Linked DNA regions of Homo sapiens. The protein of the gene in region 2 interacts with the protein of the main gene of each other region in a biochemical or structural test. Each region holds a gene or a part of one and is shown on either strand. Other genes may lie near its edges. The genes, in order: PSMD9 and SLC45A4.

What was found.
Region 1: the proteins of SLC45A4 (region 2) and PSMD9 form a complex in vitro, tested with the Homo sapiens proteins (one study listed by IntAct).

What each region holds. Positions count from the first base shown.
Region 1 is NC_000012.12:121,880,299-121,896,489, forward strand, and holds the start of PSMD9 (26S proteasome non-ATPase regulatory subunit 9), read left to right. Parts: upstream 1-8,491; 5' UTR 8,492-8,558; coding exon 8,559-8,696; intron 8,697-14,440; coding exon 14,441-14,543; intron 14,544-16,191. UniProt on the Homo sapiens protein: Acts as a chaperone during the assembly of the 26S proteasome, specifically of the base subcomplex of the PA700/19S regulatory complex (RC).
Region 2 is NC_000008.11:141,300,111-141,316,027, forward strand, and holds the start of SLC45A4 (solute carrier family 45 member 4), read right to left. Parts: upstream 8,179-15,917; 5' UTR 7,986-8,178; intron 7,783-7,985; exon of another isoform or gene 7,030-7,782; intron 5,842-7,029; exon of another isoform or gene 5,755-5,841; intron 1,402-5,754; exon of another isoform or gene 1-1,401. UniProt on the Homo sapiens protein: Proton-associated sucrose transporter. May be able to transport also glucose and fructose.

The DNA.
Region 1 (16,191 bases), on a different chromosome or scaffold from region 2:
TTTAAGAGATTCTCCTGCCTCCGCTTCCCTGGGATTACATGCGCCCACCATCACACCCAGATAATTTTTGAATTTTTAATAGAGATGGGGTTTCACCATCTTGGCCACGCTGGTCTTGAACTCCTGACCTCGTGATCCACCCGCCTTGGCCTCCCAAAGTGCTGGGATTATAGGCGTGAGCCACCATGCCCGGCCTGTACCATGATTTCTTTAACCAGCTCCTAGAATCAAGCATTACCAAGATCTTCCCATTAGAAACAGCATGGATGGTGATCTAGCTCATTTGAATGTAGAGTTTAATGCTCTTTAACAATTGCTTTATTAAATTACTCTGAATTTATATTAATAAGTATCTTATTACTATTTTATGTTTTGTAGAGACAGAGTCTTGTCATGTTGCCCAGGCTAGTCTCAAACTTCTGGCCTCAAGTGATTCTCCTGCATTGGCCTTCCAACATGCTAGGATTACAGACATGAGCCACCATGCCAGGCAGTATCTTATTATTGTTATTATTTTCAAGGGTCTCAATCTGTCACCCAGGCTGGTGTGCAGTGGCGTGACCTCAGCTCACTGCAACCACTGCCTCCCAGGCTCAAGCAATCCCCCCACATCAGCCTCCCAAGTAGCTGGGACTACAAGTGTGTCCCACCACGCCAGGCTAATTTTTTGTATTTTTAGTAGTAGGATTTCGCCATGTTGGCCAGGCTGGTCTCGAACTCCTGACCTCAGGTGATCTGCCCACCTTGGCCTCCCAGTGTTGGGATTACAGGCGTGAGCCAACGTGCACAACCCAGTATCTTATTTTTAAAAATTACTTTCTGCTCTGCTCCACGCTCTGCCCAGGTACTAAATATTAACACCCTCACAGGTATAACTGCTTCCCTTTTTCCATTCTATGGGGGAGTTGACTTTACTGAATAAAAATAGGATGATTTACTATGTGGGTCTCTGCATCTTACTTTTCCAAATGCTTAATTATTGGCAACTGTGGTGGATATTCCTTTAGCCCCTCCAAATCTCTTCCCTCCCTGCCCTTCTCTGTGCCCCAAGCCTTATCACCTTCAGCCAACCTGAGACCCTGGCAGGAAAGGAGAGGAGAGACAAGTGGGGGTATCTCTTCCTTGGCTTCCTCCCTGCCAGACGTTGTTTTAGCAGCTGTTTTAGCAGCAGCTATGTCCCTGTACTGAAGGCCACACTCCTGTTGGGTGACTACAACTCTCTCTAGGTTTCCAAACCCTCCCTTCTCTTGCCCCTTTAGGCTTAAGGGGTGGGGTAAGAGACCCCATGCTCACCAGCCCCAGGTGGCTTCATTATCCTTATCTGCTCCCATGACTTTGTTTTTTTGTTTGTTTGTTTGTTTTGTTTTGAGATGGAGTCTTGCTCTGTCGCCAGTCTGGAGTGCAGTGGTGCGATCTTGGCTCGTTGCAAACTCCGCCTCCCGGGTTCAAGCGATTCTCCTGCCTCAGCCTCCCAACTAGCTGGGACTATAGGCATGTGCCACCATGCTCAGCTAATTTTTTGTATTTTTAATAGAGACAGGGTTTCACCATGTTGGCCAGGATGGTCTTGATCTCCTGACCTCATGATCCGCCCACCTCAGCCTCCCAAACTATTGGGATTACAGGCGTGAGCCACCGCGCCCAACCTAATTTTCGTATTTTCATTAGAGATGGGGTTTCACCATGTTCGCCAGGCTGGTCTTGAACTCCTGACCTCAGGTGATCCTCCCGCCTAGGCCTCTCAAAGTGCTGGGATTACAGGCATGAGCCACTGTGCTGGCCTGATTAAGCAACTAATTTACAATTCTTAAAAACTTTTAGGGGGCCAACTCATGAGCGAGCCTGCCACCTTTATGGCTGTCAGAGTCCAGACCCTTGTTTTATAGATTCAGGAAACGAGGGGAGGATTTGTCGTTTGTAGGATTCCTGGGCCAGAGTGAGGTGAAACATGGAAAGTGTGGTGGTCCTCAAGTCAGGCAGTATGAATTCTGACCAACCAGGTCTCGCCAGGGATCTCTAGTTCCCTGGCTCTATTTCCCATGTGTTTGTCTCTTGGCCTACCTCTCGTTCTGAAATGAAGATGAGCAAGATGTGAAAGCTTGAGAGAGGCAACTGAAGTTCTCCTAGATCTTGGCAGCTTTCTAAAACAAAGGTTTTGCTGGGCTGTCTGTGGCCACTGCAGGGAAGATGAAACAGAACAACTGGAAAGGGGAAAGACAGCTCTCTCAGACTGTTCCCTTGCAATCCTCAAACAGTCCAACATTTGAAGATAAACAAGCCTCAGTCCACATTCTCTAAGAATCTCCAGTGCATGGGACAGACAGGTAAACATGCATTTACAATACCAAGTGAAAAGTGCAGAAAACAGCCCAGCTGTGGGGTGGGACACATAATGATTTCCAGGGAGGTAGTATTTCTTTTTCTTTTTGTTTTTGAGAGGGATCTTTTTCTTTTTGTTTTTGAGAGGGAGTCTTGCTCTGTTGCCCAGGCTGGAGTACAGTGGTGTAATCTCAGCTCACTGCAACCTCTGCCTCCCAGCTTCTCCTGCCTCAGCCTCCTGAGTAGCTGGGATTACAGGCACCTGCCACCAAACCCAACTAATCTATTTTAGTAGAGATGGGGTTTCACCATGTTGGCCAGGCTGGTCTTGAACTACCGACCTCAAGTGAGCCACCCGCCTCGGCCTCCCAAAGTGCTGGGATTACAGGTGTGAGCCACCTCACCCAGCCTTGAGCTGGATCTTGAAGGAGAGGTTCAAGTCAGCCTGGCCTGAGATGGTGTTCCAGGGTGGGAAGAGCAGGTGCTAAGACCCAGTGCTAAGAGAGACTGAGCAAAAAACGTGCCAGAAACTGTTAGAAGTTCAGCATGGCTGGAGCATAAGTTGTGTGTGTGTGTGTGTGTGTGTGTGTGTGTGTGTGTGTGTGTGTGTGTGTGTGTGGTGGGGTACAGGGATGGGAGGTGGTCTAAAGGCAAGCAGAGATCAGGAGTCTTAAAGGCCAAGAGAAGGGCACTGAAGCCATTAAGCAGTAGCGTGCCAATGTCACTCTTGGGAAGGTTGTTCTGGCTGCTTTGGAGACTGGGTTAAAGTGCGCAACCTGAGACAGTTCAAAGACTGCCCAATCAGGAGGAAGAGGTGGCGGGGTAGGAGTAGAGGTGGAGGAGATGGGTGGATTTGGGAGCTATGAAGGCAGTCACAGGATAGAGGTTTATTATAATGACAGCAATATTGACAAGCTCATAATGTAGTAACCTAACAACAGCTCTCTTTTCAGACCGCATGGGTAAGAATCTTCTCCTCACCCTTTTTATTTGGAAAAATTTCAAACCTCAGAAGAACTGCAAGATAGTTCCCCCACACAACCAACTTTTCCTTTTCCTTCTTTCTTTTTTTTTTTTTTTTGATAGAAACTGGGTCTTGCCACGTTGCTCAGGCTGGTCTCAAATTCCTAGGATCAGGGGATCCTCCCACTTCTGCCTCCCAAAGTGCTAGGATTATAGCCATGAGCTGCCTACAAAAGTTTCCTTGAACATGCATATACTCTTCATGTGGATTTGCTAATTGTTACATTTTGCCTCTTTCTCCCCTTGTATCATTTTCTTTGAACCACTTGCAAGTTAGTAGCTGAAACCATGACGCTACACATCTAAATATTTGAGCATTTATCTCCTTACCATAAAAAGAGTTTCTTTCACATAATTGCAACATCATTATCTGACTGAGGAAACTTAACACTGATATACTATAATTTAATATAAAGTTCATATTTAGATTTCATCAATTGGCCCAGTAAGTCTTTTAAAGCCGCTGTTTCTCATTAATAATTCAAGTAAGGATCATGTATTGCATTTAGTCATCGTTTCTCTTTTCCTCTCTTTTTTTTTTTTTTTTTGAGACGGAGTTTCGCTCTGTCGCCCAGGCTGGAGTGCAGTGGCATGATCGCCGCTCACTGCAACCTCTGCCTCAAGCAATTCCCCGGCCTCAGCCTCCCAAGTAGCTGGGATTACAGGTGTGTGCCGCTGTGCCCGGCTGATTTTTGTATTTTTACTAGAGATGGGGTTTTACTATGTTGGCCAGGCTGGTCTCAAACCCCTGACCTTATGTGATCCACCCACTTCGGCCACCCAAAATGCCGGGATTACGGGCGTGAACCATCATGCCTGGTCCTCCGCTAATTAATTTTTTTTTTTGTAGAGACGTAAGTCTTGCTATATTGCCCAGGCTGGTCTTAAACTCCTGGACTCAAGGGATCCTCCTGCCTTGATCTCCCAGAGATATAGGACTACAGACATGAGCCACTGCACCTGTATCTCTCTCTCTCTCTCTTTTGACAATGTTAGAAATGTTAGTTTATTTTTCTACCTTTTCTCTTTTTTTCTTCTTTCTGTTTAAAGTTTGTTTTAAAATTTTATCTTGAAGTGGTTTTAAACTCACAGAAAAGTTCCAAAAATATTATAAAGAACATTTATATGTTTCACCAATTATTTACATTTTGTAAATGTAAATAATTTACATTTACAAATAATTTACAGAGTCACCAATTATTAACATTTTGCCGTATTTACTTTATCTCTCTCTTGTCTACAAATATATATCTCTTTCTTTTTCTTGAGACGGAGTCTCACTATATGGTCCAGGCTGGAGTGCAGTGGCACGATCTCGGCTCACTACAACCTCCACCTCCCAGGTTCAAGCGATTCTCTCCTGCCTCAGTCTCCCGAGTAGCTGGGATTACAGGTGCCTGCCACCACGCCCAGCTGATTTTTGTATTTTTAGTAGAGACGGGGTTTCACCATGTTGGTCAGGCTAATCTCAAACTCCTGACCTCAAGTGATCCACCCCCCTCAGCCTCCCAAAGTGCTGAGATTACAGGCGTGAGCCACCATGCCCGGCCTTACATATATATCTGTATTTTTTTTTTTTTTAGATGAAGTCTTGCTCTGTCGCCAGGCTGTAGTGCAGTAGCACCATCTCGGCTCATTGTAACCTCTGCCTCCCGGATTCAAGTGATCCTCCTGACTCAATCTCCCGAGTAGCTGTGACTACAGGCATGAGTCACCACGTCCAGCTAATTTTTGTATTTTTGGTGGAGACAGAGTTTCACCATGTTGGCCAGGATGGTCTCCATCTCTTGACCTTGTGATCCGCCCACCTCGGTGTCCCAAAGTGCTGGGATTACAGGTGTGAGCCACCACGCCCGGCCTATATCTGTATTCTTTTCTGAACCATTTGAAAGTAAATTGCCTCTCTTAACCCTAAATACTACAGGGTACTTTTTCTAAGGGCACTGTCTTACAAAACCACAGTGAAAGTATCAAAATCAGGAAATTTTCAGATATCAAGGGTGGGAGGATATTACAATTTTTTTAAAAATCAGGAAATTTGGCCAGGTGCGGTGGCTCACGCCTGTAATCCCAGCACATTGGGAGGCTAAGGCGGGTGGATTGCCTGAGGTCAGGAGTTCTAGACCAGTCTGGCCAACATGGTGAAACCTTGTCTCTACTAAAAATACAAAAAAATTAGCCGAGCATGGTGGCATACGCCTGTAATCCCAGCTACTCGGGAGGCAGGGGAATTGCTTGAACCAGGGAGGTGGACGTTGCAGTGAGCCGAGATCTCGCCACTGCACTCCAGCCTGGGCAACAGAGCCACCACGCCCGGATAATTTTTGTATTTTTAGTAGGGACAAGGTTTCAGCATGTTGGCCAGGCTGGTCTTGAACTCCTGACCTCAGGTGATCCAGCCGCCTCGGTCTCCCAAAATGCTGAGATAACAGGCGTAAGCCACCGCACCTGGCCACATATTGCATTTAGTTTTTTTTTTTTTTTTTGAGATGGGGTCTCACTCTCTCGCCCGGGCTGGAGTGCAGTGGCACGATCTCTGCTCACTGCAAGCTCTGTCTCCCAGGTTCATGCCATTCTCCTGCCTCAGCCTCCTGAGTAGCTGGGACTACAGGCACGTGCCACCATGCCCGGCTAAATTTTTGTATTTTTAGTAGAGATGGAGTTTCACCGTGTTAGCCAGGATGGTCTCGATCTCCTAACCTCATGATCCACCTGGCTTGGCCTCCCAAAGTGCTGGGATTACAGGCGTGAGCCACCGCGCCTGGCCTAGTTTTTTTTTTTTTTTTTTTTTTGAGACGGAGTCTTGCTCTGCCGCTCAGGCAGTGAGCCACCTGCCCTGGCCTCCCAAAATGCTAGGATTATAGCCATAAGCAGCTTACAAAACAGTTTTCTTGAACATGCTTATACTCTTCACGTGGATTTGCTAATTGTTACATTTTGCCTCTTTCTCCCCTTGTATCACTTTCTTCGGACCACTTGCAAGTTAGTAGCAGAAATCATGACACTACACATCTAAATAATTGAGCATTTATCTCGTTCCAATAAAGATAAAAGTGATTCTCTCATATAATTGCAACACCATTATCTGACTGAGGAAATTTAACACTGATATACTATAATTTAATATAAAGTTCATATTTAGATTTCACCAGTTGGCCCAATAAGTCTTGTAAAGCTGCTGTTTCTCATTAAATAATTCAAGTAAGGATCATGTATTGCATTTAGTCATTATTTCTCTCTTCCTCCCTTTTTAACTTTATTATTTATTTATTTATTTGAGACAGAGTCTCACTCGGTCACTCAGGCTGGAGTGCAGTGACATGATCTCAGCTCATTGCAACCTCTGCCTCCCCGGTTCAAGCGATTCTCCTGCGTCAGCCTCCCAGGTAGCTGGGATTACAAGTGTGTGGCACTGTGCCTTGGTAACTTTTGTATTTTTAGTAGAGACGGTGTTTCACCATGTTGGCCAGGCTGGTCTTGAACTCCTGACCTCAAGTGATCCACCCACCTCAGCCTCCCAAAGTGCTGGGATTACAGGTGTGAATCACCACACCTGGTCCTCTGCTAATTAATTATTATTTTTTTTTTTTTGTAGAGATGGAGGTCTTGCTATGTTGCCCAGGCTAGTCTCAAACTCCTGGACCTAAGGGATCCTCCTGCCTTGATCTCCCAGCATAATGGGACTACAGGTATGAGCCACTGCACCTGTATTTCTCTCTCTCTCTCTCTCGATAATGTTAGAAATGTTAGTTTATTTTTGAGGGGTGCGGTAGCTCACTCCTGTAATCCCAGCACTTTGAAAGGCCGAGCTGGGCTGGATCACTTGAGGCCAGGGGTTCGAGACCTCAGCCTCCTGAGTACCTGGGATTACAGGTGTGTGCCACCACACCCGGCTAATATTTTATATTTTTGGTAGAGACAGGGTTTCACCATGTTGGCGAGGCTAGTCTCAAACTCCTGACCTCAAATGATCTGCTTGCCACAGCCTCCCAAAGTGCTGGGATTATAGGCATGAGCCACCACACCTGGCCCATTGCATTTAGTTGATGCACATCTTTAGTGTTCTTAAATCTAGGCAATTGCATATCCGCCTCCTTTCTCTGTCCCCCACCCCTTATTCCCCATGTGTATTTCACAACATTGACTTTTTTTGAAGTTTTCAGGCCAGTTGTTTTGAAGTATGTCCCTTCTTTTGGATATGTCTGTTTTCCAATGATTAGATTCAGGGCAAACATGTTTGAATACTACACAGATGACCGCTGAGCCCTTTTCAAGACAAAATATTAGAGGCACATGGTCAGATATCAAAGTTGATTGTTTAGGTAAGCTGGGTTGGAATTTTGGCCTCACATTTTGCTAGTTGGGTAAATTGGTTATTGAGACGGTTTTCTCAGCTGTCAAATTGGGATGTAATAATCTAGCTTCATGAGGTTGTTGAATTAATATATGTAAGGCATTTAGAACAGCGTCTGGCACATTATAAGTATCAATAAATAAACACTGTTACCGTTATTATTATCACTACGATTTTTAGAGGCCTTAACAGGAACATCCAGCACCTTCAACAGTATATGGCTCATAGGAATCATTCCATGAATATTTGTTAGCAGAAGGACAGCTCTATGAGATAGATTGCTATCAATTACTGCCCCATTTTACAGATGAGGAAACTGAGGCCCAGAGAAGCCAAGTAGTGACCTAGGGTCACACAGATTGCCGTTAAGTGGCAAGATACGGGGTGTGTACTCAGGCATATCGGATCTGTAAAGTGAGGGATAAGGAACCTTAATGTATTTTGTAAATCCTCCAGGGCTGTGTGGATGTGAAGAACTGAATTGGAGCGCCACGCAGCGGTTCTCTGGCGTACAGTATCCATCCATACAGTAGGCGCTCAATAAATGTCTGCTGCACGAATGAGAAAATGAGTCAGCTGGGGCGAGATCATCCCCTAGCGTTGGTGTGCAATTGCGTGGGGATCCATTGCTTCCGACGCTACTCCTGCCGGGTCACCACAGGCGCACGTGTTCCGGCAGGGCGCGGCTTCCGGTGACCCAGCTCCGCCCTAAGCCCCATCCCAAGCCCCGCCCCTTGACTGTTCTCGCGTTCGCGGACGGCTGTGGTGTTTTGGCGCATGGGCGGAGCCGTAGTTACGGTCGACTGGGGCGTCGTCCCTAGCCCGGGAGCCGGGTCTCTGGAGTCGCGGCCCGGGGTTCACGATGTCCGACGAGGAAGCGAGGCAGAGCGGAGGCTCCTCGCAGGCCGGCGTCGTGACTGTCAGCGACGTCCAGGAGCTGATGCGGCGCAAGGAGGAGATAGAAGCGCAGATCAAGGCCAACTATGACGTGCTGGAAAGCGTGAGTGTGGGTTCGGGGCGCCCCAAGTCGCCTAACCCGGCCCGGAGTCCCTGGGGTACTGGGATGCCAGGGCGGCCTCAGTTTGGGCGCTCCGCAACGGATCTCCCTGGGAGGCCCAAGGCGCCGCAAGTGCGGCCTCTGTCGGCACAAGAAGGCAGGCAAAGAACTTTAGCAACTGAAGAGTTAGCCATATTGATATCCAGCAAGAGTTTGTGGAGCCCTGCTGTGTGCTAGGCGCTGGTTTAAGTGCTGTGCATTGTTGAGTTAATTTAATCTTTGCAACAACCCTTTGAGGTGGATGCTGTTACTCTTTCCATTTTAGGGAGGGGGAAACAGGTGTTACTTGGTGATTAAACAGCTGTCATGTGCCTCGCTGACTGCCTTATCTTAATTTTGTACTTTTTGTAAAGACAGAGTCTCACTGTGTTGCCCAGGTTGGTATCGAACTCATGGCCTCAAGCGATCCTTCCACCTCGGCCTTTCAAAGTGCTGGGATTACAGGCGTGAGCTACTGCACCCGGCATTTGCTGATTGTATCGTGAATTCTTAAACTTCAGTGTGTATATGAATTACCTGGGGATCTTATTAAAATGCAGATTTTGTTTGAGGCAAGGGAGCAGATTCTGCATTTGTAGCAAACTCCCAGCAATGCTGATGCTAGTGGTCTAAGGACCGAACTTTGAGTTACAAATAAGGCTCATCATCCTTATTGCATAAGGAGGAAACTGAGGCCCAGAGTGGGGCAAACGCCTATCTAAGGTCATGTAGTTCGGAAGTGGCAGTGGTGGGTCTGGCTCAAAAGCTGATGCAGGTTTTCTTATGCCATCTAGTGTAAAATCACAGATCAGTTTGCAGAGGAAGATGCAATTAATTATGCCCAAGTAGGGTGGGATGGAATGCATTTTAGGTGATGTAAGATGAAGTTTCTTTTTTTTTTGTCTGAGACGGAGTCTTGCTTTGTCACCCAGGCTGGAGTGCAGTGGCTCAATCTCGGCTCACTGCAGCCTCTGCCTCCTGGGTTCAAGTGATTCTCCTGCCTCAGCCTCCCGAGTAGTAGGGATTACAGGCGAGCGCCAGTACGCCAGGCTAATTTTTTATTTTAAGTAAAAGCAGGGTTTCACCATGTTGGTCAGGCCGGTGTTGGATTCCTGACCTCAGGTGATCCGCCCACCTTGGCCTCCCCAAGTGCTGGGATTACAGGCGTGAGCCACCGCGTCCGGCCATAAGATGAAGTTTCATACGGAGGGCCAGAGAACCATTTTACTGGGTGCTGACTATATGCTCAAAGTGGGATTCAGACTTCAGGTCTGTTACATTCAGAACCTGTGCTTTCAAGCAAATTACCAGCAATTTCTCAAACTTTAGTTTACTTTCTACCACATGCAGTATACTATATGCATATACCACTTGTGTTATTCCTTTGATATTTTTATTTAAATAGATCTACTTTTAATCTTATATAAATGTATTATTATTGTTATTATTATTATTGAGACAGGGTCTCGCTCTGTTGCCCAGGCTGGAGTTCAGTGGCACCATCTTGGTTCACTGCAGCCTCAATCTCCTGGTGTCAAGCAATCCTCCCACCTCAGCCTCCCAAGTAGCTGAGACTGCAGGTACGTGCCACCACGCCCAGCTAATTTTTGTATTTTTTGTAGCTATGGGGTCTCACTATGTTGCTTGCTCAGACTGGTCTGAAACTCCTGGGCTCAAGCAGTCCTCCTGCCTCTGCCTCCCAAAGTGTTGGGGTTACAGGCATGAGCCACAGTGCCTTGCCCATAAATGTATTTTAAAAGGAAATTTCAAAACTCCGCTGCATATGGAAAATGATAATCTCTTCTCTTAAATATAAGGTCAGATGCTTTGCATGTTGATACGGCATGTTGGTTGCTTCTGGCTAGCTGCTGTTGCTTGCTGAAAGCTTTCAGCCTGAAACCGTGCTCTATATTTGTTTTTAAAAAGTGGGTTTGGGCCGGGCCTGGTGGCTCACGCCTGTAATCCCAGCACTTTGGGAGGCCAAGGTGGGTGGATCACCTGAGGCCAGGATGGTCTCGATCTCCTGACCTCGTGATCCGCCCGCCTCGGCCTCCCAAAGTGCTGGGATTACAGGCTTGAGCCACCGCGCCAGGCCTACAAAAAATTTTTTTAAAAATTAGTTGGGCGTGGTGGTGCATGCCTGTAGTCCTAGCTACTTGGGAGGCTGAGGCAGGAGGATTGCTTGAACCCTGAATGTTGAGGCTGCAGGGAGCTATAATTGCACCACTGCACTCTCTTGTGGGTGACAGAGTGAGATGCTGTCTCTTTAAAAAAAAAAAAAAAAAAAAGGCCGGGTGCGGTGGCTCATGCCTCTAATCCCAGCACTTTGGGAGGCCGAGGCGGGCGGATCACGAGGTCAGGAGATCGAGACCATCCTGGCTAACACAGTGAAACCCCGTCTCTACTAAAAATACAAAAAATTAGCTGGACGTGGTGGCCAGCGCCTGTAGTCCCAGCTACTCTGGAGGCTGAGGCAGGAGAATGGCCTGAACCCGGGATGTGGAGCTTGCAGTGAGCCAAGATTGCGCCACTGCACTTCAGCCTGGGTGACAGAGCGAGACTCCGTCTCAAGAAAAAAGAAAAAAAAAAAAAAGACTGGGCATGGTGGCTCACGTCTGTAATCCCAGCACTTTGGAAGGCCGAGGTGTGTGGATCGCTTGAGGTCAGGAGTCCGAGACCAGCCTGGCCAACATGGTGAAACCCCGTCTCAACGAAAAATACAAAAATTAGCCAGGTGTGGTGGTACACATCTATAATCCCAGCTACCCGGGAGGCTGATGCAAGAGAATCACTTGAACCTGGGAGGCGGAGGTTGCAGTGAACCAAGACTGCACCACGACACTCCAGCCTGGGTGACAGAGATTCCATCTCAAAAAAAAAAAAAAAAAAAAAAAGAAGTGGACAGCTAAAACTATAAATCTCGTATAATAAAGCATAGGAGTAAATCTTCATGACCTTGGATTAGGCAAAGCCTTTTTAGATATGGCACCAAAAACACAAGCTACAAAAGAAAAAATGATAAGTTGGACTTCAACTTTAAAACTGTGTTTCAAAGGGCATAGTAAAATGAAAAGATAAGCTCCAGAATGGGAGAAAATATTTGCATATCATTTCTCTGATAAGAGGATAGTATCTAGACTATAATAAGAGCTCTTACAACTCAATAATAAAAAGACAGCCAATTAGAAGACAGGGAAAGGATCTGAATAAACATTTCTCCAAAGAAAATATGGTCAATACAAATGGTCAATGGCCAGGCGTGGTGGCTCATGCCTGTAATCCCAGGACTTTGGGAGTCTGAGGCAGGAGGATCACTTGAGGCCAGGGGTTTGAGACTAGCCTGGGCAACACAGTAAGAGCCTATCTTTACAAAAAATTCAAAATTAAAGGCCGGGCATGGTGGCTCATGCCTGTAATCCCAGCACTTTGGGAGGCCGAGGCTGGCAGATCACGAGGTCAGGAGATCGAGACCATCCTGGTTAACACGGTGAAACCCCGTCTCTACTAAAAATACAAAAAAATTAGCCGGGTGTGGTGGCAGACGCCTGTAGTCCCAGCTACTCGGGAGGCTGAGGCAGGAGAAGGGCCTGAACCCAGGAGGCGGAGCTTGCAGTGAGCCAAGATCTCGCCACTGTACTCTAGCCTGGGCAACAGAGCGAGACTCTGTCTTTAAAAAAAAAAAATTAAAAATTAAAAATTAGCCAGGTGTGATGACATGTGCCTGTGGTCCCAGCTACTTAGGAGGCTGAGACAGATCGCTTGAACCCAGGAGTTTAAGGCGGCAGTGAGCTATGAACACACCACTGCACCCGATCCTGGGCAACAGAAGATCTTGTCTCAAACCAATACAAACACAAAAGCCATTACCTTTTACACTTTACATGGGTCAGTTATATGGTATCTGAATTATATCTCAATAAAACTGTTATAAAAACAGAGGGTACTAGAGATAGCAAGTAACTGGGGTGTTGCAGAGACCAGCACCAAATGGACACTTTTGCCTTGACAATTGCAGGATTGTAGAGAATTGGGAGAGGAATATGTATTTTTGATTCAGGGTTATTTAATGCCGTGTGTGTGAGCTGCTAGTGTTATGGATCCCATCCTTTGAGAAGCATTATCCAATGTGATATTGATTCTCAAAGGCTGGTCAACCCTTAACCACTGTGGGAAGGCAGGAGCAGATACAGGTTTTTAGCCCCTGGCGCATTTCTGCAGTGTCACGGCGAGTCCTGTGTTAGGGGAGTGTGGAGAACTATCTCCCTGCGCAGTGGACAGTAGGTTTGGGTGTAACCCGGAGGCTTCCAGAGAGAAAGGGAGCAAAATGAATGGAATCCCTCTTCTCAGTGCCTGTGTACACTGGCAGCTTGTCCCTGGACTGACTAATCCTTACAGCCACTATTTATGACTTCTGCGCGTAGTCGTTTTCTGAGGCCACCTTAACACCACAGAGTTGGTGACTTAAAACAGGAATTTACTTTGTCCCAGCTCTGGAGGCCAGAAGTCTGAAATCAAGGTGTCAGCAGGGTTGGCTCCTTCTGCAGGCTCTGAGAGAGAAGCTCCCAAGCCTTTCTCCTGGCCTCTGGTGACTGCTGGCGGTCCTTGGCCTACAGCTGTGTCACTTGAACCTCTGCCTGCATCTTCATGTGGCCTTCCTCCTGTGTCTGTCCCACACCTACCTCTGCCTTTCTTTTATGAGGACACCAGCCACCAGATGAGCTTATCTCGAGATCCTTAACATAATTACATCTACAAAGACTCTTTTTCAAATAAAGTCATATTTACAGGTTCTGGGGGTTAGCTCGTGGTTATCTGTTTTTGGGGGCCGCTCTTCAACCCACTATGCTGTGTATGCGCGTGGCATGTGCTAAGTACTCTGCAGGTCAGCTCGTTAGTTCTTGCAGCAGGTAGGGAGGGAGGCGAGTGCTCCTATTCCCATTTTATAATTGAGGAAGCTGAGGCTTAGAGAGGAGAAGGTCTCAGCTAAGGATGCCCAGCTTGTACATGGCAGAGTTGAGATTCAAATTAAAGTCTAACCAATTGCAAAGCCCCTCCCCTGAACCATGTGACTGGTTTCACTGCTTTTGTGTACTCTCCTCTGACTCATGTTAAAAAAAAAAAAAGTGTTGTTTTGAATAAAGAATACATTCCCATAGGCAAAATTCAAAACCTACAGAGGGGTATAAAATGGACTGTCTCTCTCCCTGCCCTGTCACCTAGCCACCCAGTTCTTCTCCCCGGAGGCAGCTGGTGCTATCAGTTTCCTTCTTCAGATCTTTTTATTTTCAGAAGAATCAAAGCCCTGCCACAGCTGGGTGCTGTCTGGGCTTTTCACTCCCCTCTAGCTTCCAGGGCCAGCAGCCAGGTGTCAGCCACCTGTGGGAAGGAGGGTGTGAAGGAGTGGAGGAAGAGGCTGGCCTTGGGGATGATGCTCAAAGGAGTCTTTGGTTTTATCGGCACTGTTTTAACTTCAAAAAAGAATGGATTCATGCATTACTTGCGTCGTTAAAAATAAAAAATGAAAAACACAGTGCCCACCCCAGGGTAGTTGTGAGGGCATGAGTAGAGCCCCTGGTGTAAGTGATCAGTATGTGGCAGTTTTCATTACTGTCACCTTTATTATGACTTCAGAGGAGAAGGGTCTGGGGAAAGACATCCTGGGGACATTACACCCATGAGCACCTTTTAACCACGTTTCTTTCCTCCAGCAAAAAGGCATTGGGATGAACGAGCCGCTGGTGGACTGTGAGGGCTACCCCCGGTCAGACGTGGACCTGTACCAAGTCCGCACCGCCAGGCACAACATCATATGTGAGTGGCCCTCTTAGAAGACTTTCCCCACCTTGTGGTGGGAAGGTGTTAAAGGCATACAAATAAAACCAACTATCTGTATTATCTACTGCCTTCTCTTCTGCCTTGATGGGATTGTCTTGTCCCCATCCAAGGACTGAGAACCAAGGGAATGGGCTAGACTCTAAGGTTCTATATTTCTGGTTTCATTTTCTCTCTCTCTCTCTCTCTCTTTTTTTTTTGAGTCAGGGTCTTGCTCTGTCTTCCAGGCTGGAGTGCAGTGGTGCTAACATGACTCACTGCAGTCTCAACCCCCCAGGCTCCAAGTGCTCCTTCTGCCTCAGCCTCCCAAGTAGCTGGGACTATAGGCATGTGTCGCTGTGCCTGGCTAATTTTTTTTAGTAGAGACGAGTCTCACTAAGTGGCCCAGGTGAGTCTTGAACTCCTGGACTCAAGTGGTCCTCCTGCCTTGGCCTTCCAAGGTGCTGATTGTTTTTAATTAAAGAGCTAGCAGAGAGTACAGATTGGATAGTATATTTGTTTTCTGTTTCTGCCATAACAAATGACGTGATTTGTTTTTAATTAAAGAGCTAGCAGAGAGTACAGATTGGATAGTATATTTGTTTCTGTTTCTGCCATAACAAATGACCACAGACTTAGTAGCTGGAGATAAGAAGTCCAGATGGGTCTCACTGGACTAAAATCAAGGTGTTGGCAGGGCTGGCTCCTTCTGGAGGATCTAGGGGAGAACCTGTTCCTGGTCTTTTCTGGTTTCCAAAGGCTGCCCACCGTCCTTGGCTCATGGCTTCGTCCATCTACACAGCCAGCAGTCGCATTTCCCTCCCTCTGATTCTGTCATAACATCTCTTTCTCTCACTCTCCTGCCTCCCTCTTTCACCTATAAAGACCTCTGTGATGACACCAGGCCCACCTGGATAATCCAGGATCATGTCCGAATCTTAAGGTCCTTAATCACATCTGCAGAGCCTCTTTTGCCATGTAAGGTGGCATATTCCCAGCTTCTAGGGGCTAGGATGTGGATGTGTTGGGGGCCATTATCCACTCAGCCATAGGTAGGCAACCGTCTCCACCACAGAGTCCTATTAGCATTTATCCTCCACATTTTTCACTTACTAACTCCTCTTTAATCTGTTTGAATCTTGATTCCATCTGCATCACATCTTATTTATTTATTTATTTTTTGAGACGGAGTCTCGCTCTGTCACCCAGGTTGGAGTGCAGTGGCACGATCTTGGCTCACTGCAACTTCCACCTCCCGAGTGACAGAGCAAGAGACCGTCTCAAAAAAAAAAAAAAAATCTGTTTGAGCAATTCCTTATTGGTCTTTTTTTGAAAAATCTGTTCTCGGCCGGGTGCGGTGGCTCATGCCTGTAATCCCAGCACTTTGGGAAGCCAAGGCGGGCAGATCACCTGAGGTCAGGAGTTTGAGTCTAGCCTGACCAACATGGCAAAATCCTGTCTGTACTAAAAATAGAAAAATTAACTGGATGTGGTGGCACATGCCTGTAATTCCAGCTACTTGGGAGGCTGAGACAGGAGAATCACTTGAACCCAGGAGGCAGAGGTTGCAAAGAGCCGAGATTACACCACTGCACTCCACCCTGGGCGACAGAGCAAACAAAACTCTGTCTCAAAAAAAAGAAAGAAA
Region 2 (15,917 bases):
GTGACGCATTCTTAGTGGACTCCTAATGGCCAGCCCTGAGGACAGAAGACAGGTTAAAACTTCAGCCGGACCCACATTACCGATTCCACAGAGTTGGGCGAGTAGCCTGCTTTCCTCCAACAAAGCTGGGAGACACCAGAGACCCCAGGTCCGTCAAATCTCCTCTTATGTCATAAAACCATCACACAACGCAAAGTTCTACTGCTCTCAGTCCTCAGCGTGCTGTTTCTGAGTGGGATGGGAAGTGGTGGTTTTTTGGTTACTAAACTGATTTTCTTACCAAATTTCATTAGGTCTAAAGGCTAAAAATAGTAAATCTTTCTACTTTTTGAGCATCTCCAGATTTGAGCAAATTCTCAGGGATGCCAAGTGTCAACGCCCCGGACCAGCCTCATCTGGTTCTCGGGCAGAGGCCCACCTTCCCAACCCACCCCATGGCCCTGATCCTAATGGCAACCTGATGGCCTGAGACCAGCTGCCTCGCTCCGGAACAGGCACAGCGATGCCCTGTGCAGGAAGAAGGGCGGAGCAGGGTGACCAGATTCCTGCCAGGCAAAAACCTCTAGCAAATCTAAAGTCTGGCCATGTCAGTCTTCTCTGCTTCTAACACACCTTTCTGTCAAATTAAAATTTAACCCGAGGCACAATTCCACTGTCTTACATTTTAGCCCAACCAGATGAAAATGCCGCAGCGTGCTTACTCGTGAAATGGTTCATCTTCTGCCCTTTAACACTGCGCATTTAGAAAACAGGCAATTAAATAGTAAAGCTTAACATGGAGCAGCACGGACCCCGTGACTCGACGAAGTGGCGTGGACCTTACCCGTGGACCAAGTGTGCGAACACAGCACAGCAAGCGCCCCGTGCAAACACAGGAGCATCCTGAGGGGCCTCCGGTGTGGGGAACTCAGAGAGCCGCAAGGTCCCCACAAACGCCTGCCTAAAACTGGACTGCCTGAGAAGCTGCTGTGGAGAAAGTCCCGGTGCCCAGGGAGCCCCCACCTCCAGCCTGCCTGCCCCGCCTAGACAAGAGGAAGGCACTCTTCCCAGGGAACGTTCCAGCAACAGAGATGTACCCGGTACCAGGGACAGTTCAATTATCCCTTTAATTAAGGCACCTTAAACGGGCCCCACCCCCCAGCTCTTTGAGACCTCCTTCCGGTGTATTTTGTGCATTTAGTAATTGTTTATCAAGATCAATGATATTTATGTTTCTGTGATCAATTCTGTACTGATAATTACAATGACATAAAACATTCTTCTGGATGTTAACATAGCCTAATGATCACAGAAATGTTTTAAATTGCAATATATACTTTTGTCACAGAGAAGTATGGAGAACAGTCCATAGGTCGGGTGCAGTGGCTCATGCCTGTAATCTCAGCACTCTGGGAGCCTGAGGCAGGAGGGAGGGTCGCTTGAGGCCAGGAGTTCATGACCGGCCTGGGCAACATGGTGAAACTCTGTCTCTGCCAAAAATACAAAGAAAAATTAGCTGGGCATAAGCCCAGCTACCTGGAGGGTGGAGGTGGGAGGATCACTTGAGCCGGGGAGGTCGAGGCTGCAGTGAGCCATGATCTCACCACTGGACTCCAGCCTGGGGGACAGAATGAGACCCTATCTCAAAAAAAAAAAAAAAAAAAAAAAAAAAATCCTGGGCAACTCAGTGAGACCCCATCTCTGCAAAAAATAAAAATAAAAACTAGCTGGGCATGATAGCATACACCTGTGGTCCCAGCTACTCAGGAGGCTGGAGAGAGAGAATTGCATAGACCTAGGTGGTCAAGGCTGTAGCGAGCCCTGATCCCACCACTGCACTCCAGCCTGGGTGACAGAGGGAAACACTGTCTCAAAAAAGAAAAAAAAGAATGAGGGATGAAAAGACTTTCAAATGGAGCAAACATACAAGTTCACAAAGAAAAAAACTGCCTTGTCAAGACTGTTAAGAACAATTTGTTCATTTTTTAAAAGGGTGACTGATGGTAGGTATCATTAGGATATTTAACATTGGATACTTTTTAAAAAGCAATACAATGGTTACTTTTAAATGCCAACATTATACTAGAAATTGCATCTTTTGCAGTTGTTTCAAATTAGGACCAAAAATTTAAACATCAACTTAAAAATGTGTCTATAGTTTTTCAAAGTTTTTTTTGTTTTTTAGATGGAGACAGAGGCTTGCTCTTTCGCTCAGGCTGGAGTGAAGTGGCGCAATCTTGGCTCACTGCAACCTCCACGCCACTCACCATCACCACCACCACCACCACCACCCCCATCCCCGCTGCCCTCCCTCCCCCCGACCCCACCCCTGCCCCCAGGTTCAAGCCATTCTTGTGCTTTAGCCTCCTAAGTAGCTGGGATTATAGGCGTGCACCACCACACTTGGCTAATTTTTGTATTTTTAGTAGAGATGGTTTTGCCATGTTGGCCAGGCTGGTCTCGAACTCCTGACGTCAGGTGATCCACTCACCTTGGCCTCCCAAAGAGCTAGGATTACAGGCATGAGCCACCGCGGCAGGCGTAAAGTTATTTTACAGAACACATAAGCAAAAATGTTTTCAGGCCTTTGCTTGACAGCAATGTAACTCTAAAACATTCCTAATTCATTCATCACTGACAGTGAAAAAGCTGCCTCTACGATACTCAGGCAGTCCCCCTCGCCTCGTGTCTAACATGCTCTTAATATGCGATTTCATCTCCAGCGTGGAGATGTCAAACCCCTCCCCTCAAAAAACTTACAAAATATTCCCTTCCCATATACACCAAACCAAAAACCATGCTCTTGAATAAATGTATTTCCCTAAAATGATGACTACATTGTTGGTGATAAGGAACTTATTTTCTGTTTTTTCTTATTTTCTTGTTTTCTGGCCTTACAATGTCTTTTTTTTTTTTTTTTTTTGAGACAGGGTCTCACTCTGTTGCCCCAGCTGGAGTGCAGTGTGGGTGTGATCTCCCCTCACTGCAGCCTGGACCTCCTGAGCTCCAGCAATCCTCCCGCCTCAGCCTCTCGAGTAGTTGGGACCACTGATGTGAGACACCGCATCCGGCTAATTTTTTTGTATTTATAGAGACAGGGTTTTGCCATGTTGTCCATGCTGGTCTCAAACTCCTGGGCTCAGGCAATCTGCCCGCCTCAGCCGCCTAAAGTGCTGGGACTATAGGCACGTGCCATCGTGCCCGGCTAATTTTTGTTTTTTTTTTTTTTTTGGACAGGTGGGGTTTTGCCGTGTTGCTCAGGCTGGCCTGGAACTCCTGGACTCAAGCGATCCTCCTGCCTCAGCCTCCAAGAGTGCTGGGATTGCAGGAACGAGCCTCTGTGCCCAGCCTGAGTGATTTCCTAAAATTGTGCAATAAGGGTCATATATAAAAGTATAATGACCACCACACCTGACCAGGTAAGCACTGTGTTGATCCCTCTTTATTATCTATTCTAAGGGTTTGCTATGCATTTTTCACTCAAGATTTTCCTTTCTTTGAAATAGGAAAAATTTGGTTGCCAGTCAATTCAGATGGCTCCAGGATTTCAAGGCAGAACCCCAAGAGAAACCTTGGGGCAAACTACAAAAACTCAGAGCAAGTAGCATAACAGAACCCCAGGTTGGAAGGGACTTTTCAATGCAGCAAATTAAGCACCTCTGGGCCAGAGTTCAGGAATGCAGTTTCCTCTCACTGCCAGCAAAATCCTTCAACAGGTTTAGGAGGATGAAAGTACCGAGACCCAGGTCTGAACAATACCTCCCTCACTGGGGCCTGGGCCCAGTAGAGGTGGGAGGGTGAGATGGCCAAGCTCAATGACTTGAAAGGTTACGCAAATCCCTTCAGCTGCCTCAGGATCCCACTCTGGACTGGCTGGCACCCTTATTCCTGCACTGGGGACAAAATGCCCAGCACTATTCCCCCCCGCGGCTCCCGACAGACTCTGAGAGTGAACTTGTGTTCTGGAGCCCTCACTAGACAGGAAGGTGGGCCTTGGGATGACCCTCAAAATAATGCAGCTACAGCCCAGCCCCTCTAACTTAAGAGAAATCCCACCAGCTGCGGTAGTATGAACCTATAACCCAGCAGCTACTTGGGAAGCTGGGGCAGGAGGATCACTTGAGCCTAGGGGTTCAAGACCTGCTTGGGCAACACAGTGAGACCCCCTGACTCTTAAATACACACACACACACACGCAAAGGAGAGAGACTATAATGCCAGCACTTCGGGAGGCCCAGGCAGGCAGATCACTTGAGGTCAGGAGTTCAAGACCAGCCTGGCCAACATGGTGAAACCCCATTTCTACTAAAAATACAAAAATTATCTGGGCATGGTGATGTGCACCTGTAGTCCTAGCTATTCGGGAGGCGGAGGCAAAAGAATCGCTTGAACCTGGGAGGTGGATGCTGCAGTGAACCAAGATCGCACCACTGCACTCCAGCCTGGGTGACAGAGTAAGACTGTCTCAAAAAAAAAAAAAAAAAGGGGGGGAGAGAGAGAACTTCCTCTCCCTCTCACCTGAAGTCCCCAAGCTACACAGCAGCTGAGCCAAAGAGAACTCAGAGCCCTTCTCTCCATCATCAGGGTTTTGTGCTATTTCCCGCAATCTAACCAGTCGCACTCAACAAATGACCCCTACCAAGTGTCCCGTCTTCCTGGGGCAATAACACCCACGTCGTCTGAGGTGGGAACAACAGCAACCCATCCACGGCTCTCAAAGGGCCACTCTATCAGGGATATGAAACACTAAGTGGGTTATGCGGCTGCCCTCTAAGTCTGTGGATGTTTTTAATCTTCTTAAAATGCCTCCTCCAAAAGTCACTTGCCAAGGAGGCCACTTCGTAAACACTATGCTGTTTCTCCTGTCACCTCCACCCAAATGGCAAGGGGTTGAAAATGACAATATGACCTGTTAAGCTTCCCTTTCGGCAGGCCCTCTCCTGATTCAGGGTAGAGAAGATTCATTTCCACGAACATTAAAGAGGTCTCCCGGTCCTCTGAAAGTGCCTGATTTCACAAAAGCTTAGCATTTGATACTCGGGGGAAAAGGCCACTAGAAGCACATTTTGAAAGTTTCACATTTAAAAAGATCCTTGTTCATTGATTTTGGTGGGGTAATTAAGCTAATCTAAACAAGGGGACCTTGTCTAGGAGCCGGTGGGGGAGGTGCAGCCGCTCAGGTCCTCTGCATGAAAACCCACTGCAGACGCCTGCTTTTGGGGTCCTCTCACCCCTTCCTTTCTACAAGGCTGCTCTTCGGCTGGGAGGTTTGCTCCCTCTGGTCAAATCTGTTTCCTGGCTCAGGTGGAGACAACCCTTCTGATGGTGTTTCACTAAGTGCGCCTTCGTCAGCATAATCACGCAGTGATGAAAACCTGGGGAACCTAGGAGGCCAGCGAGGAACAGTCCTCACCCATCATTAGCAGGAACGCGGCTTCCAGCATATTCTGCCTCCACAAATTACAGACACGACTCTGCCAGGGGTGTTCCCAAGAAGGGCACTGGCAATTTGGGGTTGTCTGCCACCTACAGTGCTTGTCAGTCACCCTCACTCGGTGCCAGGCCACAAGGCTGTTGGTCACAAACCACCCCAGCCAGCCACTGGGCGTCAGGACCCTCGGGAAGAGCGGGAGAGGGCACTGGGATGCACCACGGTCAGAACGACAATCACAGCCCGAACCCCTGCGCTGCACTCCTCTGTCCTCCCCACCTCTCTCCTGACAACACAGATACAATCCATTCACCACCAAGCAACCTCAAGATTGGCTGAAATACCTTCCTCGGCTCCTTTCCTCCATCGGGAAAGTGGGGAGCTGCCGCTGCCGCAGCCCTCTCCTTCCCTGCAGATCTGCGGGGCGGGCTGGGGCGGGATCTCAGAGCTCACGGAAAGGAGGCAGAATCCGGTTTACAGGCTTGCTCCGCCCCTCCCCCACCCCCCTCCAATAAGCAAAGTTAGAGGGTGTTACAAGCTGCAAGACACACACCTTGGAGCTCACCCAGTCCAATCTCTGATCTGCTTTCACGATGCGACAAGGGCCAAAGCTGCAGCACGCATCTCGGCAGGGCAGCAGGCCACTCCCCCCACGAGGCCCGGGAGGTGGCCCTGGGCAGCCTCCCCACTCCCCGCCCTGTGAACACCTGGGCCAAAAAAACACACCTTTAAATACCCAGTGTGTATTTCAAACACATTTCAAACGATTTGCTTCTTTCCTTTACAGCCACTGCCACAAAAACAATTAGCCTGAACGGGTGTGAAATCCTTGATGTGTAAGACGACCTAGTTCCCCAGCCTCTCTCTAGAAACACATGAGTTCTTTACTGCGCCTGAGTCTCCTCCACCCGGAACCTGCAGGGCTGCCTCTTCTCATCAAGTGGCTTCTGCAAAACCTCTCCCAAGCATTTAAATAATCTCTGCTCGTTCTTTTAACAATAATTCAAACCTAGCAGAAAAGTGAGGACACTATACATTTCTTTTAAGGACAGTGTGTGTTACCTGCTCTGATCCCCATGTGTTACACTCCCTAACCTGTACACCAATACTCCAGCTTTTTGTTTTCTTATTTTTTCCTAAAGCCAGCACAAAATAACAGAAGGATAAGATTCCTACCACATTCTACCTGTCTGCCAATGACACAGGAAGGATGAGACCGTCTGGGGAATGGAAGCGCAGGGCGCTCTCAGTAATGCTGGGCAGATGCAGTGGCTTTTCCCCAGCAGAAATGGGCTTCGATTCAGAATCTACCAGCCCACAAGAATCATCTGACCCCACAACAATTAGTTCAATCACTCATCTGGTAAACCCTCCTCGCTCCGGGTCATAGACTGGAAAAGACAGCCCCCAAAACAGTAATAAAAACGACAAGCCCTGTTTTGCTGGAGTCAGCTGAGGTATCAGATGGGGGTCAGTGGCTAGGTCTGTGAACCTGAAGCCACACTCCATCAGTGACCCGCACTGGAGAGACACAAACACCTCAGGCTCCTTAGGAGGTCAAGCGGCCCTTCCCAGCCCTCCCTAGCCCCCGCCTTCTAGAATCATTCTGAATAGCTAACCAGGAGGCTGGGCCCCGTGTGGATCCGCCTCCGCTGGAAAAGCCGCTGCTGGAAGTGCTCCAATCCAGAGCAGGATACCTGGGGGAGGAACGGGTTAAGCGCAAAGGGGAAAGGGGCAGCGGGTGCTGAGACGCAGAAGGTGCGGGGACTTCTACAGAGCAGGGAATCTGGGCCCGGATGAACTGATGCCCTGGCCTCTTTCCTCCAGGGACAAGGTCGGTCTCAGGAAATCAAGGTATCTTCAAAGGGACACAAGGGAGCGCAGTGCCGATGAGACCGGGGCAGAGCCACAGTCTGGCGGTGCAGGCTGGGGGTCCGAGGCGGGGGACACTGGCTAGCAGTGCTGCCAGGGTCGTGTGTGCACTGGGCAGAGGGAAAGGAGGGGAAGAAGGGAAGGGGAAGAAGGGGAAGAAGGGAGTGTGTTCGGTTGGGAGGACCGGTCCAGACAGAGGGGAGAGGGGGCCACTTCGCGAGTGGTGTATCGCTGGTTGAATTCTCATAAGTTAGAGATAGCAGGCAGGGGTTAGAAGGACAAGACAGGGTCAGGACCAGGAGTTAGAGGCGCCAGGCTCCTCTCTGGGTAGAGAAACCGAGGAACTGGGGGCGGGGAGGACTGATGGGTGCGAAAGCGGGCCGGGTCCAAATGAAGGCGCGCGCCCCGGGGTGGGGGCCGGGGTGGGGGGAATGAGGGAGGCTGCAGGGCTGGGGACCAGGGCAGGTGCAATCCGGAAAGAGGAGGCGGGAAGGAATTGGGGGGCCCTGAGGAGCCAGCGCAAGCCGGGTGGGGGCACGTCCCCTCCCCCGGAGAAGGTGCGGGGCTGGGGCTGCGGCGCGGACCCGACCTGGAGGCCGAGGCTGTGCGGGAGGTGGGGGTGGGGAGGCTGCAGGTGCCCGGCGCCCAGGTGCGAGGTGCAGGGGGCGGCGGGGCAGGCGGCTGCGGGCGGCAGGCCACTCACCTGTCTCCTCCGGCCGGGGCCGCGGGGGCGGCGGGGCGGCCGGGCCGGGCCGGGCAGGGGCTACGGGGGCGCGGAGCCCCGGGCGCACCGGGGTCGGGAGGCGGCTGCGGGTCCGGGCGGGGGCTGCTCCCTCGGCCGGCCGGCCGGGCGGTCAGTCAGCGACGCGGGCGCGGAGAGAGCGCTGCGAGGCTGCGGCCGGCGCGCGGAGACAACGCCGCTTTATCGGGTCGGAAACAGCCGCTCCGCGCCGCTTCCGCTGACGCAGCGCCGGCCCCTGCGCCTCATGACTATGCAGCACCCGCCGCCGCGGGACGGGGATTCGGGGGGCGGGGTCTGCGCCGCGCGCGCTCATTGGCCTCCGCTGCCGCCCACCCCGCCCCCGAACGGCCGCCCCGCCCCCGCCGCGCCCCTGCCCCGCCCCCGCGCGCACCGTGGCTCCCGCCCCCGTCTCGCCATGGCCCCGCCCCCAGCCATAATCCAGCCCCGCCCCCGCCCTCCTCCCGCTACGCCCCCGGCCCCGGCCCCGGCCCCGGCCCCTCCGCACCGAGCGTCCGCCCTCTCTCCCCTAAAGCGCTGGCCCGCAATCCACCCCATCCCTCTCTGCAGCCGCAGGAGGTGGCCCCCGCCTGTCCCCACCTTCTCTCCCCGCTCCTCTCGCCACTCTGTCGCAGAGGGGTCCGGCTAGCCACGAGGCCCCGGCCCCCGGCAGCCCAGCCCCTTGGCAAGCACCCTCCCGCCCCCTCCGCCCCTGCCCGTGGCGCGGCGACATGGGCCCCATCCAGGTGCTGCAGCCCCTCCTCCGCTGCAGGAGAAAACTCTCCTGTTTTCCCCTCCCTGCCACCCTCCGAAGACCTCCTACCTGGTCCCGGACCACGCCCCCGTCCCCAACTCCCCCAACGCCCCGCGCTCTGCGGGTCCCCTCTCCAACCTGGAGAGCGGGGCAGGACGAAGACCCGACCCGGAGCTTCCTGGAGGCTGGGCCTCCCTCTCAGGCTTGGCCCTGGCCAGGGACACTGATCCGTCTCTCCCCACGTGTAGAAGGGCCACAATCCCTAGGGCAGGACTGCTGGGAAACCCCATCAAGACAAGGTCTGGGGAGGCGGCTTTAACAGACAGATGTGATGGGCTGAGGCCAACCCTGTTAACGTCGCAGCCCTGCACCCTTGCCAGGGTTTAAGTTGCTTTGGAGGAATTACTTCATTTCTCAGAACCTTGGCGTCCTCATCTGTAAAATAGAAATCGTAAGATCCATCTCACCTGTTGCTAAAGGAATTTAGAAGTGAAGTGCAGAGCAGAGCCTCCAAGAGCATCGGAAATGGGAAAATCTGACCATATCAAGTGTTGACAAGGAAATGGAGCAACTGGAACTGCCAGACACTGTTGGTGGACATGCAAAGTGGTACAACTTTCAAAATCTTTTTGAAAGGCCTTGATTACCCAGCAATTCTGCTCCTAGATACACACCTAACATTGTGTTTCTGTTGATAGCAGCAGTGTTTATAATTGCCCCAAACTGGAAACTACTGAAATGCTCATCAGCCGTTAAATGGATACATAAATTGTGATATATTCACACAGTGGAATGACAGCAATGACAGTGAATAATCAACTACACACAACAACATGGATGACTCTCACAAATGATGTTGAGGAAAAGAAGCCAGAGGATAAAAAGCCATATTTGTTTCCATGTGGATAAAGTGGTAGAAGGTGTATATGGGGGTAGCAGTCAGGATAGTGGTTACCCTTGGAGGGAGGGGTGCCAGAGCCAGGAAGCAGGGCACAGAGGACGTGTCTGGGGGCTGGCTGTGTTCTGTGTCTTGGTCTGAGTGCTGGTTACAGTGTGCTCAGTTTATGATGACTTTTCCAGCTGTGCAGTCAAGATGCATGTGCCTGTGGGGCACGGTGATTCACGCCTGTAATTCTAACACTTTGGAAGGCCAAAGCGGGTGGATTGCTTGAGCCCAGGAGTTTGAGACCAGCCTGAGCAACATGGTAAGACCCTATCTCTATTAAAAAAAAAAAAAGACGTGTGTGTTTTTCCATGTGTATGCAGTATCTCAACAGAGGGTTAGTAAGTACATCAATGGTCTGTAGACAGTCCAAAGCAGCATCAGACACATCATGAGTGCTCAAACTGTACATCTGCTTCCCTGGTGATTTTTCTTTCAATGGCCAAAGGATAGAGGCAGCGGCAATTCCAGGTGTGCTGTGAGCCAACTGTGTGAGCCTGGGCGCCTACTTAACCTCCCTGAGTCCTCTTCTATAAGTGAGCATTCTAATAGTACCTAGTTCACAAGTTGTCCTGAAGCTTAAACAAAATAGCAAAATGATGCTTTTTAAAATGACAATACAATCAAGAGGACAGAACAGGTAAAGACTTTGTTTATTCACAAATTGCTGGTATTGATTGAATTGTCTTCATTGTCATTCATGCAGTAACCAACTACTGAGTGTGTGCCTACTATGTGCCACACGCTTTGCTGGGTCCTAGTACTGGAGCTGGGAACATGATCCCATCTCTCTTCTTAAGGAGTGCATTGTGGGGTATGTACCAGCCATGGTAGCCATGGAGCCCAGTCTAGGATCAGCCTTGTAGTAGGTGCTCCATAAGTATTTCTTGGGGCTGGGCATGGTGGTGGCTCATGCCTGTAATCCCAGCACCTTGGGAGGCCGAGGTGGGTGGATTGCTTGAGCTCAAGAGTTCTAGACCAGCCTGGGTAACATGGCGAAACCCCATCTCTATTAAAAATACAAAAATTAGCTGATTGGGGCAGTGTGCATCTGTGGGCCCAGCTACTTGGGAGGCTGAGGCGGGAGAATCACTTGAACCTGGCAGGCAGAGGTTGCAGTAAGCTGAGATCGCACCACTGCGCTCCAGCCTGGGCAATAGAATGAGACCCCATCTCAAAAAAAAAAAAAAAAAAGCCTCTAAAAGAGTAACTGAATGCAAGTATAGAAGTATAGGCACCAGCCTAGCAACATAGCTAGGCCCCATCTCTACAAAGAATTCAAAAATTAGCTGGGTGTGGTGGCACATGCCTGTAATCTCAGCCCTCAGAAGGCTGAGGCAGGAGGATCACTTGAGCCTGGGAGTTCAAAGCTACAGTGAGCTATGATTGCACCACTGTGCTCCAGCCTGGATGACAGAGCAAGACCCTGTCTCAAAAAAAAAAAAAAAGAATGTAAGTGTAGGCATGAAGTTTCTTGTGAATGAAACTTAGAAGGCAGTTTCTAAGCCTGAGATGTGGAAACCCAACTAATTTACTTCTATAACCTGGAGTTAAACACAGAGACCAGAGTAAAGTTAAGAAAAAATATATCCCCATTGTGCAAGCACCTCAACAAGTGTGTGTGCATGCGTGTGTGCATATGTGTGTGTGCATACGTGTGTGCATGTGTGTGCATGTTTGCATGTGCGTGTGTGCATGTGTGTGTGTGTGCGTGTGCATGTGTGCGTGTGCATGCCTATGCAAGAGGGCAGTGGCAGGGCCACCCTGCAGCACTCCTTCCCAGCCTACCCGGCCAGGGCCTTATATTACCTGCCACCACCAAGAAGGGTGATATGTGTCAGTGGCCTGTGGCCCCATTGTCCAGCTGCCCATGGAAGCCGGGGAATGGAATCCTCAGGGCCCCCACACATCTTTGCCCCACTCCACCCCCTCCTTAAATGGCTGGCTCCCCAGTCCTGTGAGGAGAGAGCTTGATACGGGGAAGCCCTCTTGCCCAGGGGTCAGAAAGACACGGACTCTGGCCTGGCTCTGAAGCAGGCGTGCCTGGGCCCTTAGCTGTCATGGGTGTGTGACCTGTGTAGTCACACATACCCAGTGCTCAGAATAGCTCCACGCTTGGCTTAGCGCTCTGCTGTTGCCATCTTTAAATGCTTCACAGCTTTTAAGAAGGGCCCCACAAATGCTGTGGCAAATCCTGCATCTTTGTGAGCATGACAACCTCCCCGATGCTGGGACGAGTCCAGGGCGTGGTGCCTCCATCACTGCTTAGGTTCCAACCTTGTCTTCTCCGTGCCTCACCTGGGGATGCCTTGGAGCAGGGCCAGGCCCCTCTCATCCCCAGCGCTCATGTGTGCACACCTTCCTGTGAGATGGGTGTCATCCTGCAGAGGAGGAAGCTGCGACACAGGTTGTTGGTACCTGTAGCCGCACAGCTGGTAGGCGATAGAGCCGGGATTTATACCTGGGTCATATCTGGTTAGGTGTTAGGTGAACAGGCTGACTGATTGAATGAATGAATGAATGAATGACGTCCGTGAACACACCCATCTTACTATTGCTGGGCATCATTCCCTTCCTCTCCTCTGTGCCTCGTAAATGAAGAGGAAAGAGCCTGTTTGGTGCAAAACGTCCACATCCCACAAACAGGCTGTGACCTGCTCTGAGCCAGAGGCCAGCTGGTGACCTGGTATGGACAGCTCCTACCTTGGTTGAAAAGACAAGACTGCCCTCTTTGGACCTTGTGGAGAACACACTGGGCCATGGGAGAGAGGTAGAAGGTGCTCCGCACAACAGGTAAATCAGGAGAGAAGGAGAAGGAATGAAGGCCACTCAGACTTCTCCAGCCCCTGCCCTCAGCTTCCCTGGCCCTCTGTCAGCCTTTCCATTGCACAGACGAACAAACCAAGGCTCAGAGGTAGCGTGACTTGCCTGAGCAGCCTCTCTTCCTAGGAAAAGCAGGAGGGCTTCCGGGCAGGAAGCCCCCACGGAGGTGGAGGCTAGAGGGCTGGTGAGGCATGCGGGTGCCAGTAGAGCCCGCGGGTGCCAGTAGAGCCCGCGGGCGCCAGGAGCTCCACATTCCTGGCAGGCCTGGCAGGTCCCCCCTCCCCTGGCTCTCTCCTCTGTCACACCAGGTGACTGTCCGTGCCACCCTTTTGAGCCCATCCCCAGACCTTTGCATCTGCCATTTTCTCTTCTGGGAGTGTCCCTGGTGCTCTCCTGCCATGAGGAAGTGTCCGAGAGCAACAACCATTGATCCCAGTTTGAAAGGAAAGGGAGGGAGGTGGTACATATGGAAGCCCTCCCTGAACTGGCTCCAATTTTACTATGATTCAAACAACAACCCGCCTTTAACCAAGGGCCTGCTGTGCTCCAGCTGCCCTCAACCCCTGCCCAGCTTCCTTAGAGAATGGAGGCACAGGATTCTCTCCAGAGACCACAGCCTACACAGCGGTGGGGTGGGGGCGGCAAGTAGGTGGGCCCTGAAGAGGGAGGAAAGAGAGGGGATGAGCTGAAGCAGTGTCCCAGCCAGACAGTCCCTTAGTGACACCTCCTGTGCTCCTTCACAAATCTTTTATCTTTTCAAAGCAACAAACACGTTTTTAAACAAACTCGTTCACAAAACCCCAATATGTCAATTAGCACGCTCATGTATCACCAGGTGTTCCTAAGACACTGCCCCGCTTGGCTCTCGTGCTTAGGGCGCTGATGTTCAGGCTGTGTCTACTCACCCTGCCAGCGTCCTTCCGCCTGCTCCGCCCCTTCCCCAGGAGCAGCCTCTGCTTAGGTGAGGCTAAGAGCGCAGGAGCAGAGTTCTAGCTTACTGTGTGACCTTGGAGAAAATACCTAATCTCTGTGAGCCCCAAGGCAAAATGAAGAGGGTGTGAGCTCCACAGAGGGTAGGGGCCAAAGCCCTGGGATGCAGGTGAGTAGGTCCACAACCCGCAGGTCTTGGATCTCAATTGCCCAGGAGGGGACCCGAGACCCTAAAGACCATGTGCCTGCCCAGTGTCCTGGGCAGCCAAGGGCTTTCAGAGCAGCCCCAGGGCCGGGACACGAATCCAGGTCGGAACCTCCAGGTACCTGAATTGGCTCCAGAGCAATGGGCTTCTGGGGTCCCACGGCTTCTCTTCCTGGGGTCATATGGCTGCCCGGTGTCATATGGCCACCAAGGGGCCATGTGGCATCCTATGATCGTGAGCTTCTTGGGGTCTCATGGCTACCTGAACCATGCGATTGCCCACGGTCACAATCGCTAGGAGTCACACAGCTACCTGACGATGGAGTGATTTAGCCACTCGGGGTCATACCCCAGGTCACATGGACACCTGGGGCCACACGGCTCCCCATACTGGTGTGTCTCATTGGAAGTTCAATGCAATCCAGGCCATTCCACTGCTTCTGTGTCCTGGGTGAGCCCCATCCCCTCCCTGAGCCTCAGTTTCCTCATCAGTGAGGTGGACAGAATCTTTGTTTCTCTAGCACAAAGGACTGTATGAGAGGATTATGTGAGGAAATGACAGTGCAGGGCCCAGCGGAGGTCATTGACTAGGAAGAGCTCATCAGTGACCACAGTGCCAGGAAAGGGCAGCTGCCCAGGACTGGCTGTGGCCGTCAGCACGACGCTGGCCCTCCAGGCCTGGGCAGAACCTGAAGATTCCCCAGAAGAGACTGAGGCAGGTTTTCACTGAAGGGCCTTCCCCACATGGGCCCGCCCTGGGCAAAGGCCGGGTTTCAGAAGCACGAGAGGGGTGAGGGGCTGGGACAGGCTCCACGCCCGCCCGGCAGCAGGATGTGCACGCTTGCAGCTCTGCGATGCCTTTCTCTGTAGCTGTCTTATATCCCACAATGAAACCTGTAAAATAAGTCAACACGATCAGACACCGACTTTGTCCAGGTTTGAGGGCCTCAGCACTTGACCTCTTTCCTGGGGACGTCTTCGAGCGGCCAGATGGGGGTCTTAAAGAGCTCCTTGAGGCCCGTGTGTGGGGCATATGGGGTGGGGCTGAGAAATTGGATCTAGAGCCTAGTGGGGCAGTGGCTGGCTAGTGCTTGTTCAGCTGGGCTGGTCAGGGCCCAGATAATGATGCGGATCAGTTACCACAGGGCTCCAAAGCCAGCTGGGCCCCCGCCTGATCAAAGTAATCTCGTGTTGACAGCAGCCCTGCGCTGGGTGCCATTAGATTCCCCATCTGCTAGAAGAGGAAACTGAGGCACAGAGAGGGGAGGTAGCTGGCCTAGGGTCACGTATCGAGTCAGTGACTGTGCCAGGGTTTGAACCCAGGCCATCTGGCTCTGAGTCCTCGTGCCCCCTTCCACAAGGTCACAGGGCCTGCCAGGGGCTCCTAGACTGTCAGAGTGTGGAGTGGTTGCTGCATCTGCTGGCATCTCTAGCCCACCTGTCAGGATGGGGAGGAGGGGCAGGGCCCAGTACAGGGGCTGGCACTGGAGCCATAGCCATGAACCAAATGACCAGGGTGACCTGGAAAGGAAGCAGGGAGGCAGCCACCCAGGGCGGCCAGCAGGGTGGAGCATCTGGCACGGCTTCTCACAGTGAAGGGTAAAGGCAGGTGATGTCTGGGGTCACCCCACCCAGGACCCCTGCGGCAGGCCCCACCTGCTGATGGCACCAGGGCAGGGCGGAACCCAGGGTAAGCCTCCCTCCCAGACATCCCCTCCAGGCCGTGGTCCTCAGCCCAGCTTCGTCTCTGGACTCCCACCCCTGCCCCTGCTTAGTCAGCAGCCTCCTAAGCCCTCTGGGTTGGCTCTCCCTTTTCCTGCGTTTGCTTACACTGCTCATCCTGCCGGTAGTGCCCACCATTTCCCTTGGGTCTGCCTGTCCCATGTGTCCTCCTCCAGGAAACCCTCCCAGACCACCCCAGCTCTCAATAATTCCTGCCTCCCCCAGCACATAGCAAAAATAAGGCCCACCTAGGCTTTAAGTCCTGAATCATCATTTAAAGAACCGCCTATACTTTACAACGTGCTTGTCCTGTCCACAGTCTCATTGGAGCCTCTGAGCAGCCCTGTGGAGTCAGTTCTGGTCTCCCCTTACAGATGGGGGCCTAAAAGGTGAGGGCAGGACCAGAGCTCACCTGGGGTGTCACTGCACCAGTAGTTAATACTCACTGAGACCTACCTGGGTGCCAAAGCCTGGCCTATGTGATTTCTAATCATTCATTCGTTCATTCACTCATTCACT